Linked DNA regions of Homo sapiens. The protein of the gene in region 1 purifies or fractionates together with the protein of each later gene. This does not show direct contact. Each region holds a gene or a part of one and is shown on either strand. Other genes may lie near its edges.

Region 1 (5,530 bases):
AAGTCAGCAGATGGAGACCATCCTGGCTAACACGGTGAAAGCCCGTCTCTGCTAAAAATACAAAAAATTAGCCGGGTGTGGTGGCAGGAGCCTGTAGTCCCAGCTACTCGGGAGGCTGAGGCAGGAGAATGGCATGAACCTGGGAGGTGGAATGAGCGGAGATCACGCCACTGCACTCCAGCCTGGGCGACAGAGCAAGACTCCGTCTCAAAAAAAAAAAAAAAAAAAAAAAGAGTTTGAGGCCATTCTGGCCAACATGGTGAAACACCATCTCTACTAAAAAATATAAAAATTATATTAGTCGGGTGTGGTGGCGCTCGCCTGTAATCCAGCTACTCAGGAGGCTGAGGCTGTGAGAATCGCTTGTATCCAGGTGACGGAGCCTGCAGTGAGCCAAGATGGCGCCACTGCACTCCAGCCTGGGCCACCGCACTCCAGCCTGGGCGACAGGGCAAGATCCTGTCTAAAAAAAGAGAGACTCAAAGGGAGAAGAGGGGTTGGAGGCACACAGAGAGGAGAGCTAAGGGGCTTCCTGGAGTAGGGGGTGTCAAACAAAGCCTGCAGGCACATGGAAAACACCAGTCCATGCCCAGCAAACAGCACGTGCAAAGGGAGGTGAGACTCAGCCTGCTGGGCACCAAGCCCGGTTGGAAGTTCGATGCCCCTGGAATTAAATGGGAGAGAAGTCAGCATGGACCACATGGCACCAGCCCCAGGGCTTCCAGGAGGAGGAGGAGGAGGAGGAGAAGGAGAAGGAGGAGGAGGAGGAGGAGGAGGAAAATAAGTGGAAGCTGTCCATGAGAAAGCAGGATCACCTTGGAGGGCTGAACCTAGAGGAGCCACCCCAGTAGCGGCAGAGACAAAAGTCCAGATACAGGCTCTAGCCCTTCTCTGCCGGGGGATGCTCTGTTTGTGGGACCTGGTGTTTTGAAATTCGGTCATGTGTAAAGCAAAGGTCCAAGTAGGAGATGATAAATGTAATAAGATAATAGTAGTAGTAGTAATAACAGCTCACGTTACCCGGTGCCTGCACACGTTATGCGTGAGGCTGAGTTTAACCCAAATTGGGAAGGTCTCCACCTCCTCCCTGGACCCAGGGCTGTCGCAAACTGGCCGCCCGCGGGCCAGGCCGGATCCTTTTTCAGACCTTTCCTGCACACAGCCAACAGCACGCCTCACATTGTCACCACCGGAGAGGACGCCCTGGGCTATGCGTCTGGATTGGCCGGTCAGCACCCGTTTGTGAATGGACTCTTTGGCCTTTGGCCTCCAGGAAATCTGATTGGCTCGCATCAGCGATCTACCCCCTGATTGGCTGGGGTGCTCCTGGACCATTAACAAGGTTTCCAGTCAAAAGAGACCCCAAACTGGGGCTGATGAAGACAACACCTTCACGTGCCAGATTGGTTAGAATTTCTCTGGCTTCCTGGTGGGTACTTCCCTCTTTGGGCCTCAGTTTCTTCCTTTGAAAAGTGGAACTAATAATAGCACTGACCACTCGGGCTGTTGGGAGAATTGAATGCATGAGAGGGCTTAGCCTGTTAATATGAACGGTTATTCCCACTTTACTATTATTTTATTATTATTTTAATCTTCTTCCACTTGGACCTTTATTTTTATTTTTGAGATAGGGTCTCGTGATCATGGCTCACTATAGCCTCAAACTCCTGGGCTCAAGAGATCCTTCTTGGCTGGGCGCGGTGGCTCACGCCTGTAATTCTAGCACTTTGGGAGGCCGAGGTGGGCGGATCACCTGAGATCAGGAGTTTGATACCAGCCTGGCCAACATGGCGAAACCCCGTCTCTACTAAAAATACAAAAATTAGCCGGGCGTGGTGACATGTGCCTGTAATCCCAGCTACTCGGGAGGCTGAGGCAGGGAGAATTACTTGAACCCGGGAGGTGGAGGTTGCAGTGAGCCGAGATTGCGCCACTGGACTCCAGCCTGGGTAACAGAGCATGATTCTTTCTCAAAAAAAAAAAAAAGAGAGAGAGAGAGAGATCCTTCTGCCTCAGCCTCCTTGAGTAGCTGGGACTACAGTCATGAGCCACCACACCTGGTACACTTAGACTTTCATTCCATGCTCCTTCCTGGCTTCCTGCCCTTTTTGATTCCCCCACTCCTGCTCCTAGCCCTCCAGAGGAGTCTTCCCAGCCCCTCAATATGGGCATGTCCTCTCCTGCTCCAGCACCTTCCATAGCTCCCCATCACCCTAGGGGGAAAGTCTAACCTCTTCAAAATCAGCACTGAAGGCCCTGGAAGCATTAAGTCCTGGCCATCAGCCTCTAGTGCTAAGAAATAGGTTCAAGTTCTTGTTTCCCCATATAAACAGGTAAGAAAGGCTACATGCCTCTGGGCCTTTGCACGTGCTGTGGCCTCTGCCCGGAATGCCCTCATTCAGTCGGGGAATCCGTGCTCATCCCTCCACCTTCGTGGAGGGACGCCTGTGCTGGGTTGGTTTGGAGAGGAAGCCGGAACTGCGTGGGTTCAAATCCTGTCTGACTCTGTCACCTATACTTTGTGAAACCCGGACAGTGGCTATGCTTCTCTGAACCTCAGTTTCCCCTTTTGTAACATAGAACTTACCATCAGGAAATGTTTGACCCCCCCACCATGGAACAGGCCCCACTTCTTGACGTCAGCAGCACCCCCATTCGCCTACCCGGAGGCGGTTTCTCTATTTTAAGAGGCTGCGGGCGGGTTGGCATCTAACTGGGGCTGGAGGCGGGACTGCCCCCCCACCAACACCACGCTGCTCGCCAATCCCGCCCCGCCCCCTCCTTTCCGCCCAAGTCCCCCACTCTTGCCTCTGGCCTCAGCGCCTCCAGTTCTGCCCCACCCCCGCGCGGCCAGAGACCGGGTGTCTCTGATCTGCAGCTCAGCCCGTGCCTTCCCTGACCACTCCCGACCTGGCTTCCCATCACCTGCTGAGTTCGCAGTCCCGCAGCTACCGGTGCGGCTCCAGGTTGGAGACCCGCCGGCCCCATTCCTCTCACCCCCTCAACCCGCCCGGAGCTAACCTCAGTCCCCGACCCCCACCCCACCTGCTCAGTCCTCCCTAGGTTCCAGCTTCTGTCAACCTCTTTCATTTCCCTAAATACCGCCCCCCGCTGCAATGCCTCGCCACCCTTGGCTGCCTCCTCTACCCCAGGGCTCCCAGCAATGACTGGGTCAGGCGCCTCCTTCACTTGCTGTGAGTCCCTTATCACAACTGATCACTCCGTGGGGTCACCGCTGCTCTGGCGTCTACCTCCCCCAACAGGTTGGGGTTTCTAGGAGGGCAGCTCCAGAGGTTGCAGAACACTCCGCTGCCTCTCCAGAGCCAGGCACACAGCAGGCGCTCCATAAATGTTCGTTGGGTAAGTGCTGAATCCCAGGTTCCCTACCTGAAAACTTGGTGGCTTCTTAAGGGTGTGGTCTAAGTCCCAGAGGAAAATGGCCAAATCTTAATTCCTGTTTTTCTTTTCTTATAATGGGGACACTGAGGCCCAGAGAAGTCAAAGGGTGGCTGCCCGGGGTCATGTAGTCCCTGTGTGGCTTCAAACTTAGGCTTCTGCTGTCCCCGACGCCTGTGTCCCTACCTCCTGATGACACAGCCTCCTAAACATAAACTCAGTAAAAGGAGGACCCTATGGCTCATTGGAAAACTGAGGCCCAGAGAAGCAAGGGTGCCCTCCCCCCAGGTCACACTGCTGGTTGGCAGCGCCTTGTGCCGTAAGAGAGCTGGTTGAGGGCGCAGATCGAATCCCAGCTAGGCGACCTCTGGAGAGTGGCTTTCCGGGACTAGAGCCTCAGTTTCCTTATTCTGACAAATGGGCGCCTGACAGCCCCAACCTCCCCAGGTCGTCGTAGGGCTGAGCTGAGGGTGTACAGTGGTGCAGCGACGACCCAAGGAGGTATTAATACATATGAACTCATATTAATACATCGCTAGTAATAGGACTAAAACAACCATGAACATATGGTGAGCTCTCTGGCTGCTGTTGCTAGCATTATTATTAGAACAGCTGGTGGGGAGGGGCAGAGCCCTCAGCCTCTTCCTCCCACGCCATCGCTTGGAGCCTCAGTTTCCCTAGATGTCCAAGGGGGCACCTTCCCCCTTCCCACCATGAGAAAAAGCACTTTGAGAAGCGGGTGGTCAAAAAGAAGCGATCTGAGCGTTCCCCACCCTCTGCCTCAGTTTCCCTACAGCCCGTGAAGGCCCCGCCCCTCCCGGCACCTTTCAGGCCGCGTCCACTTGGCCGCGCCCTCTGCCTTCCGCCCGCCCGCGCAGGGGCCTCACCTGGAGCCCGCGGCGCCGCAGGAGGCTCGACTCGTCCATGGCCCGGGAGTCCGCGCCGCCAGGCCCGCCCCCGGCCCCGCCCCGGCCTGCCAGGCCCCGCCGCCAGGTGCCATTGGCCAGGCCGGTCAGCTGACACGGCCTGGCCCCGCCCCTCCCGGGGAGCCCGACCACAGGGCCCCGCCCCCACTGGGCGAGCTGGCCCCGCCCCTCCAGCAGAGCGCAGAAGTAAATATTTTGCATGAATCCTCTCAGAAGTAAGGCAGCATCGTTCAGCCCCATTTTGCAGATGAAGAAACTGAGGCTAAGATAGGTTAATCAATATGCCCAGCGCATTGGCCGGGCGCAGTGGCTCACGCCTGTATCCCAGCACTTTGGGAGGCCGAGGTGGGCAGATCACTTGAGGTCAGGAGTTCGAGATCACCCTGGCCAACATGGTGAAACCCTGTCTCTACTAAACAAAAAAAACCAAAACAAAACAAAAAAAAAATTACTTGGGGGTGGTGACGCGCGCCTGTAATCCCAGCTACTCAGAAGACTGAGGCAGGAGAATCGCTTGAATCCAAGAGGCGGAGGTTACAGTGAGCCGGGATAGCGCCGCTGCACTCCAGACTGGGCGACAGAGCGAGACTCTGTCTCAAAAACAAAAACAAAACAACAACAAAAAATGTGCCCAGTACACACAGCAGAACGGGTTCTAGGGTGAGGCGAGTGAGGATCTCACCCCTGTGCAAAATTTAAGGTGGCCCCACAAAACTCAGCCATCAAGAGAAATAATATTTTAAAAACATAAAATTAATGAAAACATTTATGATGAACAAAACATCAAAACTTTTATTTTTTATTTTATTTTTAGAGACGGGGATCTCACTATGTTGCCCAGGCTGGTCTTGAACTCCTGGCCTCAAAAGATCCTTCTGCCTAGGCCTCCCAAAGTGTTGGGATTACAGGTGTCAGCCACCGCATATGGCCAAAACACCAAAACTTTTTTTTTTTTTTTTTAATTTATGAGACGAGTCTCTCTGTTGCCCAGACTAGAATGCAGTGGCATGATCTCGGCAACCCCTGCCTCCTGGGTTCAAGCTATTCTCATGCCTCAGCCTCCCTAGTAGCTGGGACTACAGGTGCCCACCACCACACCAGGCTGATTTTTTGTATTTTTGGTAGAGATGAGGTCTCACCATGTTGGCCAGGCTTGTCTCGAACTCCTGGCCTCAGGTGATTCACCCACCTTAGCCTCCCAAAGTTCT
Region 2 (3,500 bases), on another chromosome or scaffold:
GGAGAGCTGATGGTTTCATAACGAGGAGTTCCCCTGCACAAGTTCTCTCTTCCCTGCCACCATGTGAGATGTGCCCTGCACTCCTTGCCTTCTGCCATAATTACACAGCCTCCCCAGTCACATGGACCTGTGAGTCCACTGAACCTCTTTTTCTTTGTTAGTTACCCAGTCTCAGGTATGTCTTTATTAGCATTGTGAAAATGGACTAATTACACCTGGGTAATTTTTTTTATTTTTTATTTTTAGAAATGGGGCCTCACTATGTTGCTCAGGCTGGTCTCCAACTCGTGGGCTCAAGAGATCCTCCTGCTTCAGCCTCCCCAAGTGTTGGGATTACAGGCATGAACCACTGAGCCTGGCCAAGAGACCTTTAAAAATAGAAAAGAATTTGGAAAGCAAAAAATTATTTGCTAATTACTAATGAAAGTGTTTACGCCAGGCACGGTGGCTCACGCTTGTAATCCCAGCACTTTGGGAGGCCAAAGCGGGCAGGTCACTTGAGGTCAGGAGTTCGAGACAAGCCTGGCCAACATGGTGAAATTCCATCTCTACTAAAAATACAAAAATTAGCCGAGGGTGGTGGCATGTGCCTGTAATCCCAGCTACTCAGGAGGCTGAAGCATGACAATCACTTAAGCCTGGGAAGTGGAGGTTGTAGTGAGCCAAGATTGCGCCACTGCACTCCAGCCTGGTTGACAGAGCAAGACGTTGTCTCAAAAAAAAAAAAAACAAAAAAACAAAAAAACAAAAAAAAGATTAGAAGTGTTGAAGAATAAGTTTGTTTTCTTTCTTATGCTATTTGCCTTGCAATCTCATGAATACTATTTTCTTACCAAATCACATTTTCAACAATAGCACAAAGGAAACTTTAGCCTAGTTCTAAATTTAATTAAAGAGTTTAAACTGATATTTCACTGAAATGCTCTTCAAATCTAAACATGAGAAGAGGAGGCCTAGTGGTAGAGTGCAAGCTCTGGTGCCAGACACTTGGGTTGAGATGCCAGTTCCTTGCAGGCTGGCTGATTGTCCTTGGGTGTTTCTGTTAGCCTCTCGGTGTGGCAGATCCCTCACCTGAGTTAGGAATGACAACTGTGCCCTCCTCTTGCAGGGTTGTTGCAAAGAGTTCATCTAAAGAAAACTCAACAAATGTGCACTTAACTTTCAGAAATTGCAGGATTAATAGGCATCTAATTCAGTATCAAAGAAAGTGGGCAGATTAACCCCACCATACTCTCGATGCAGACAAAGCCATTTCATGCAGAGACAATGCCTGACTCTGTGTATTTGACCCTTTATTTAGGCTTCTGTTCCTCTAACACCTCATCCTTTTCATTTTTTTTTTTTTTTTCTAGACAGGGTCTCGCTCTGTTGCCCAGGCTGGAGTGCAATGACTCAGTCTTGGCTCCCTGCAACCTCTGCCTCCTGGGTTCAAACGATTCTCCTGCCTCAGCCTCCTGAGTAGCTGGGATTACAGGCGTGCACCACCACGCCCAGCTAATTTTTGTATTTTTATATAGTTGGGGTTTCACCATATTAGCCAGACTGGTCCCGAACTCCTGACCTCACGTGATCTGCCTGCCTCGGCCTCCCAAAGTGCTGGGATTACAGGTGTGAGCCACCACAGCTGGCTCATCCCTTTCATTTTATAATGCCATATTTTCTTTCAAATATTGTTAAGACATTTATTTTTAAGATTACATGAATCCCAAGTAACTATCTGTGACGGTTTTATCTTTCTCTAGCGGGCAAACTGTAGATGAACCAAACTTGACCCCAGCTCATTTGTAGGTTCTCTTCTGGCCTTTGCTGGTTACCCCAGCCACCAGGCTCTTCAGGAAGAGCCCAGAGTCTCCTAGGCTGTCAACCTGGGAGTGGCCACACACGGTATACAATTCCTTCTGACTCCCTGATAAGATGCGACTCAATTTAACCGACTGAGACACAGGACTTTGCTTCTAGAGATGATGCCTTTAGCCTGTCCACAAACAACTACTTTGGTCAGACTGTACCAAGTTTCTGTCCACTCCCGCCTACCATCCTTTCAAAGTAAATGGTAAATTTTAATTCCTCTATTTTTTTAAAAAATTATTCTATTTGTGACTACTTGATAATTTCCCTTCCTTTTTCTTCTCTTAGTCATTTAAATTTTCCTTAATCCTACTATACTTTCTTTACATCTATTTGTATGAAGAAACCCTTACCATCTTTTACAGAGATCAGCAGAAAAAGACATAAGCTTATAATGTTACACGTATTGACTCAGCTGGGTACTGAGGAGTTTTTAGCACTAATAATTTTTGACAAAGCTAGTTCAGATGTTGCCACAGGGAAAAGCTGTAACACAGAATTAAAGGTACAGATTTAAAGGCTTGGATAGTCTTTGTCAAAAGGGGTTCTTAAACTCAACTTGGTGGTTTAAAACTAGCAATTAAAAAATAAATGACTAGGACAGAGTAGAAAATATCAGAATGCATCAAATGTCATAAGGCTAATTATGAGCTTGAGAAACTTTTGTTTCTATTATATATATGTACATACCCACATAAGCAAGCATGGACTGGATTGAGATGTAAAATGTATTCCTTCCTGTGGGTCAGTCAAAATATTTTGAGAGCCACTGTTCTAGGCTAACCAACCTCTTTGAGCCTCAGTTTACCTCGCCATAAAATAAGGATAATACTAGCAGCTACCACATAATGCTATTGTGGGAATTAAATAAGATAATAATAGTCGCTACCATTTATATAGCACCTAACTGTACAGGAACCTACACTACAAACTATACCAGAAACTTCTCATGTCATTCATTCATCAAAATGGGATCAAAGAAGGTGTGAAGGAGGCGAGGGATGAGCCATGGAGATAAATGGAGGAAGAACATCACAACAAAGGGAGAAGCTAAGGCAACAGGAGGGATGGAGCAGTGTGTGCTGGGAGCCATGTAAGATGACATCTGAGAGGCAATAAGAAGTAAGACCGTCTAGGGCTGGGAGACCTCCAGAAGAACTTTATTTTTTACTATGGATGAAATGGACAGCCATTGAAGATTCTGAGCAGAGGAATGACAAAGACCTGAATTACATTTCCAAAGGATTGCTCTGGCTCTGTTGTTGAGATTAGACAACAGAGGGTAGGTTATGGGGGAAGCTGCGGGCCAGCTTGCAGTCCACTGTAATGACCCAGATGAGAGAGGATGGTGGCTGGGACCAGGGTGGTAGCAACGGAGGTAAAGGCAGAGTCATTAGAATTTCTAGTGGACAGACTGCAGGAGAAAACAGAAGGTGTGGAGTTAAGTATTCTGCCAAAATAACTGGAAGGGCATCCTTAGGAGAGATGGGGTTTGACAGAAAAACCAGGAGTTCAGATTTTTTAAAGAATTCAGTTTTGATATCCTACACGTGAGCAGCAACCTGTTCATCAATGTACCCTTTATGAGCCTCCATCTCCGCCTTACTGTCCCTACTTCCTTTCTTGTGCTTCCTGGGATCAGTTCCCAAATA

What was found. Proteins that work in one complex are often made in the same cells at the same time.
Region 2: the proteins of MAST3 (region 1) and ZBTB21 purify together in Homo sapiens (affinity purification with mass spectrometry, with the first as the bait; one large-scale study listed by BioGRID). This does not show direct contact.

Annotation. Positions count from the first base shown.
Region 1 is NC_000019.10:18,096,585-18,102,114, reverse strand, and holds the start of MAST3 (microtubule-associated serine/threonine-protein kinase 3), read right to left. Parts: upstream 4,338-5,530; 5' UTR 4,323-4,337; coding exon 4,284-4,322; intron 3,361-4,283; coding exon of another isoform or gene 3,350-3,360; exon of another isoform or gene 3,188-3,349; intron 1-3,187. Other genes in the region: IL12RB1 (interleukin-12 receptor subunit beta-1), read left to right, coding at 3,350-3,360.
Region 2 is NC_000021.9:41,996,861-42,000,360, forward strand, and holds part of ZBTB21 (zinc finger and BTB domain-containing protein 21), read right to left. Parts: intron 1-3,500. UniProt on the Homo sapiens protein: Acts as a transcription repressor.